Regions from separate parts of the Homo sapiens genome. Here region 2 is linked to region 1. The links come from fine-mapping of genetic effects on gene expression. A gene starts in region 1. The other region holds a variant in brackets. All regions are shown on one strand. Distances are between the middles of the regions.

Region 1 (3,003 bases):
GCTCTGTAGCCCAGGCTGGAGTGCAGTGGCGAAATCTCAGCTCACTGAAATCTCCGTCTTCCGGGCTCCATCTTACATGCCCATAATCCCAGCTACTCAGGACGCTGAGGTAGGAGAATTGCTTGAACCTGGGAGACAAAGGTTGCAGTGAGCCGAGATTGCACCACTGCACTCCAGCCTGGGCAACAGAGCTAGACCCTGTCTCAACAACAACAACAAAGAAGGAGGAGAAGGAGGAAGAAGGAGAAGAAAAGAAAAAAAAAAGTCGTCAAAGGATATTAATTGTCGATAGATAACAGATAATGCCAAAAAATATAGAAGCAATTCTTAAAACACAGTGTTGGAACTGGTCCACAGCTCTGATTTTTAATGAGCTCCCATTTCTGAGGCCAATATAAACTTCATTCTATGCTGCCCATCTCTGACAGGTGGGCATTAACTACCAGCCCCCCACGGTGGTCCCTGTGGGAGACCTGGCCAAAGTGCAGCGGGCGGTGTGCATGCTGAGCAACACCACGGCCATCACGGAGGCCTGGGCCTGCCTGGACCATAAGTTCGGCCAAGTGCGCCTTAGTGCACTGGTACGTGGGGGAGGGCATGGCAGTGGGGGAATTCTCCGAGGCCCGCGAGGATCTGGCAGCTCTGGAGGATTATGAAGATGTGGGCATGGATTCCGTGGAAGCTGAGGCTGAAGAAGGCGAAGAATAGTGAGGGGAGGGTGCGGCAGGCAACCATCCCTCTGTATTCCCCACCATAACGCTAGGAGAGCTAATTACCTATTAAAATTTCCGTATTGCAAATTAGCCGGGCGTGGTGGCGGGCGCTTGTAGTCCCAGCTACTGTGGAGGGTGAGGCAGCCGAATGGCGTGAACCCGGGAGGCGGAGTTTGCAGTGAGCCGAGATCGCGCCACTGCACTCCAGCCTGGGCGACAGAGCGAGACTCCGGTCTCAGGAAAATAATAATAAAATAAAAAATAAAATTTCTGTATTGCGATACTGTCTTTCTCCTGTGTTGTACTTTGAGAGATTCCTCCTCCAGATAACCCTCCCTGAAGTCCACCTCCCCAGTACGAGAGTGAGTGCGGGCTCTGGTTTTTGTCGGGTTCTTTCGTGCAAGCGTCCCAGGCCCCGTTTTATTTCTTCCGTCAGAGGTCATTCCGAGGCGAGCTGCCGCCCCTGCGGCTTTCGAGGCTCCCAGGACACTGCCGCTTTCCGCTCCCGGGCCGCTCCCGAACGCTGGGGCCGCTCCATCGTGCCGGGGTGTTTACGGAGAAAAGTGAGGCCTGAGCGGACGAAAGAGAAGCCCACGTGGGCGACAATACTGGTAGTCCAGGGAGCTGGGACGACGCGGGCGCGTCAGAAACTCGCACGCTCGCGCCGCTTACTAACCCAGCTAGCTAGGACCTCGCCCCGCCCCGCCCCGGTGGCGGGGGCACCTCCGGCTCTCCAGTCTCTATGGTACCAACTTCCGGCGCGCGCTACCCCTCGCGAGACTTCGGCGGCGCAGCAATGGCCAGAGCGTGAGTGCCGCTGACAGAAGTCAAGAGAATCGGCTGGGACGGGGTTGGGGCGACAACGGGCCGGGGGGGACCCGACAGGCCAGAGCCCCTTGGGGAGGAGCGGCGGCTGGAGGCGCGAGGCTCCTCCGGATGCCCGGAGAGCCGCTTGCGACTTAACTCCCGCCTCTTTCCCAGATGCCGCGTCACTGCTCCGCCGCCGGCTGCTGCACACGGGACACGCGCGAGACGCGCAACCGCGGCATCTCCTTCCACAGGTCAGCGCGCGTGCGCCGCGGGCTCACGTGCGCATGCGCTAGTTGTTGCTCGCCTCGGGTCGCAACTGCGTAGAGGCTTCGCGCCTTTCTCAGATACTGAGGAGGCTTGAACCTGTGGGTGGGAGGTGAAGCGGAACGGTCCCGGCGGGACTGAATGCAGTCGGGAAGGGGAGGACGGGAAGTCTAGCCGGCTTGGACCCGCCCCACTCTGTTACCTGCCAGATGACGCTGAGGAAACTGCTTTTCTTCTCGAGGCCTCCGTTGCCTCGTCTGTGCCCGGGCGGTGGTGCTTACCCGGCGGGGTCGCAGGGAGGTCTCGTGGCGGCGCGTGTTGGGTCTGCGTTTCCCCTCTGGGGTGCTTGGGCAGCATGAGCCCAGGGCTGTGGACAGCCTGGTGCTCACGGGTTTGTGGCTCCACAGACTTCCCAAGAAGGACAACCCGAGGCGAGGCTTGTGGCTGGCCAACTGCCAGCGGCTGGACCCCAGCGGCCAGGGCCTGTGGGACCCGGCATCCGAGTACATCTACTTCTGCTCCAAACACTTTGAGGAGGACTGCTTTGAGCTGGTGGGAATCAGGTGGGCCTCCCTGCCGGCCGACGCTGGGGTAGGATGTGGGGCTCCCGGCGGACTGGGACAGCTGCAGGTCATGGAAGTCCCTTGAGCAGCCTGCGTCCAAGGGGGCTGTTTCCTGTTCCCAGCTCTGCACAGTGAAACCCACCCCCAGGATCACTGTGCCTGTGACACAAGGGGAAAACAGGAGCCTTTCCAGAGAGTATCTTTCAGAGCCCCAGTCTTGCCAGCAAGTCCACAAATCAAAGAATTCTTTCTGGCTGGTCAGCCCAGCTCGGCTTATGCAGGCTTTCCACACACCTGGACTGTGAGGAGTCCTGCGGGGAAGCGATTGGTGTAGCTGTAACTTGGCGTTCCCCAGACGTATTGTTTGCACGATGCCTTCCAGCATCCCACGGCGCTGCTGCTGGGGGCAGATTGGCCTGGGGAGGCAGCACTTGCTCTCCAGCTCATCTGGGTTGCTTTTCCCCGCAGTGGATATCACAGGCTAAAGGAGGGGGCAGTCCCCACCATATTTGAGTCTTTCTCCAAGTTGCGCCGGACAACCAAGACCAAAGGACACAGTTACCCACCTGGCCCCGCTGAAGTCAGCCGGCTCAGACGATGCAGGAAGCGGTATGTGATATGGGTGGGGGATGCCCCACTCCCACCCCTAGGCT
Region 2 (2,725 bases), 33 kb after region 1:
ATAGATGGAGTTGGGCAGCAGTGTTTTACCAGTTAGCTCTGAGCCTCCTAGCAGCCATGGTGAGGATGGAAAGCCTTTAGGTATCAGTTATGGCCTAATAAAAGGCAGGTGAACAGATGCTAAGAGAGCTGCACTTCCTCCTAGCTCTGAGCTAGGTGAGGGACTGGTCTGATACCTTCTTATCAACTACTCAGACAGGACACACAGGAGCACAGAGGGAACCCAGGAAGCAGGTGCTGATGCACACGGAGCCACAGAATCGAGTGGAGCAAGATAGAAAGTGAAGGATTTGCACAGAGGTCTTCTGCTTGATCTAGTCTCTTTGTGGCCCCTTAAGACCCCAGCTGAACCCTCAGGCCCCAAATGCTGTCACTCCCATATCTGGAAATTCCCTGAGCCTCATGCCTGACCTGCCCAGCATGGGCACCTGGGGCCTGAGCCTCTGGCTACAGCCCCACAGGGGAGGCCTGGCAGCACAGAGCCCAGCTCAGAAAAGGGATAACAAATAATATTCCTTGGGAGGCCGAGATGGGCGGATCACAAGGTCAGGAGATAGAGACCATCCTGGCTAACACGGTGAAACCCCGTCTCTACTAAAAATACAAAAAAATAGCTGGGCGTGGTGGCGGGCGCCTGTAGTTCCAGCTACTTGGGAGGCTGAGGCAGGAGAATGGCATGAACCTGGGAGGCGGAGCTTGCAGTGAGCCGAGATCACGCCACTGCACTCCAGCATGGGAGAAGGAGTGAACTCTGTCTCAAAAAAAAAAAATTCCGCAAGTGCTTCTGGTGTGCCAGGCCCTCATGCTAGGCACAACAGCCCCACTTTACAATGAGGATGCAGAGGCTCAGAGAGGGGAAATCACCTGCCCAAGGCCACACAGCCAGAAAGGGGCAGGGCTGGATTTGCCTAAGTTCTTAGGACTGCCTTTGGTGAGGGTGGCCACCCCCGACACTGGAAGTCCTGGGGCCACGGGTCCCAGGCAGGCCAGCCATTTGGGGTCCTTTAAAAGAACCTGCAGGTGGCATCTTCTGCCAGGGCCTCCTGCCAGCCCAGCGGTGCCACAGACGCCTGGTATGAGGCCAGCTGGCATCATCCCACCCACTGCTAGGGGGAGACAATGGACGTCATCTGCCCAAGGCACATTTTGAGGCAGAGAGGGATCCAGCCCAGGCCTAGGTGTCCACAGCACAGGAGCGGGGGAGGAAGAGTGGCTTCTTGGAGCAGAGGCAAGTGGGTCCCTCTGCCTGGTGGGTCATCACAGCCCTCCTCCCTCGCCCAAGTTCTCCCTTAGACCCAGGAAAGGGAGAAAAGCCTCACAAGTTCCAAGGTAACGGAGCTGATGGGTATCAGGTAAGGGGAGCTGGGGTGAGCTGGCTGGGGTGAGCTGGCTGGGGTGAGCTGGCTGGGGCAGCGTGGCCTGGCAGGTTGAGTGGAGCACTGGCTGCGCTCTTGAGGTCTCTCTAAGCCTCAGTTTCTCCACCTGTGACAAAGCTGCACACTCCTGCCTCCCCAGGTGTTGTGAGGAGAGAAGAGGGAAAGTGGGGGGCCAGAGGGAGAGCTCCGCAGACATGAGTCTTTAGTGGAGAAAAGACCCAGGCCTCCCCTAGCACCCCAGGACACTCCCACTTCTGGCTGGAGTAGCTCAGGCTAGGTTGG[A/G]TGGTGATTTCCTGTATAAATGGGGAAGTGTGCCCAGAAAGGCCAAGAAGGCAGCCCGAGACCACACAGGGGATCAGAGGAGGCAAAGAGAGCCAGGATCTGCCCACTACACCCTCACAGCAACTCTAAGAGGTCAGGGTGGCCAGGCCCTCTCTTTTGCAGAGAGAAAAACAGAGGCTCAGAGGGGTAACTTGCATGCCCTAGGTCACAGAGTGGCTGAGCGTGTCCCCAGCTCCCCCCTTCCCTGGCCCTGGGGGCATAGCCCCTTCCCCAACCCTGCAACAGGAGGAACCCTGACTTTCCTTTTCCAAGAAGGGTCCTGCTGTTATTCCCACCACCAACACTCAAAGCCCCAAAGAAAAAGGGGCACCCACTGGAGCAGGGGCCAGCTGGGGGAACTGCTCCAGGCCCCCTACCCCCTCCTGGCGGCAGCGTATTAACATTCCGAGCGGGTTCTTGGATAGCCTGACCTACTTCGGAGGCCTACCGAGTGCAGAGGGGGAGGGGGGGGAGACGGGGGAGGAGGAGGCGGGGAGGGAGGAGAAAGGATGGAGACAAGAAGACAGGAGGTACCTGGTTTGGGTTTGGAGAAGCAGCCGCCCATGGCGAGTGGCCTGAGGATGGCCGGCAGGCAGGAGCACAGATGGGGAGCTGTCGGAGGCCTAGGGCGCCCCCCATGGGGCTGGACCCCCTGCAGGCCTTAGAGACGCTGGAGCCGCCATCCTGCTGGAGCTGCTCTAGGACCTGCAGGGGAGACTGGAGCCATCAGGACCGGGGCGTGTGGGCAGGTAGAGACACAGAGGGACGGAGAGAGACAGTGGGAGCTTCGGAAAGAGTCTTACATTTGAGCTGGGAACCATGGCGTGAGCCTGATCCCAGAGCGTGGGGCCCTGGAGGTCACCTCCCCTTTGAAGCCCTCCAAGCTCAGCTCCCTCACTCCTCCAGTGGAGTTCCTCTGCCCGAACCTCGGCCGCCCATCGTCCAGCCCCGCGGCTGCCTTGCCCAGGAAATCCTCCCTGATTTCTACTGCCTCCTCGTGCCCCCCTTCCCCTCTCCAAATCCCACAGC

What was found. PIP is the estimated chance that this variant, and not a neighbour inherited with it, causes the effect.
Region 2: its variant is fine-mapped to the expression of THAP7 in monocytes (TOPMed, PIP 0.99).

The regions. Positions count from the first base shown.
Region 1 is chr22:21,000,603-21,003,605 of GRCh38, reverse strand. THAP7 (THAP domain containing 7) reads left to right here and starts at 1,488. Exons shown (of 4, transcript NM_030573.3): 1 at 1,488-1,774; 2 at 2,195-2,350; 3 at 2,819-2,959. The coding sequence starts at 1,695. THAP7-AS1 (THAP7 antisense RNA 1) reads right to left here and starts at 1,684. Exons shown (of 2, transcript NR_027051.1): 1 at 777-1,684. RefSeq lists silencers at 493-883, 1,525-1,634, 1,655-1,824 and an enhancer at 2,425-2,634.
Region 2 is chr22:20,967,481-20,970,205 of GRCh38, reverse strand. It overlaps AIFM3 (AIF family member 3), which reads right to left. Exons shown (of 21, transcript NM_001386814.1): 2 at 2,231-2,401. The coding sequence starts at 2,261. Among named protein-coding and RNA genes, the nearest start is that of AIFM3, 1.6 kb to the right of the region's middle. The variant A/G (reference allele first, on the strand shown) is at 1,658.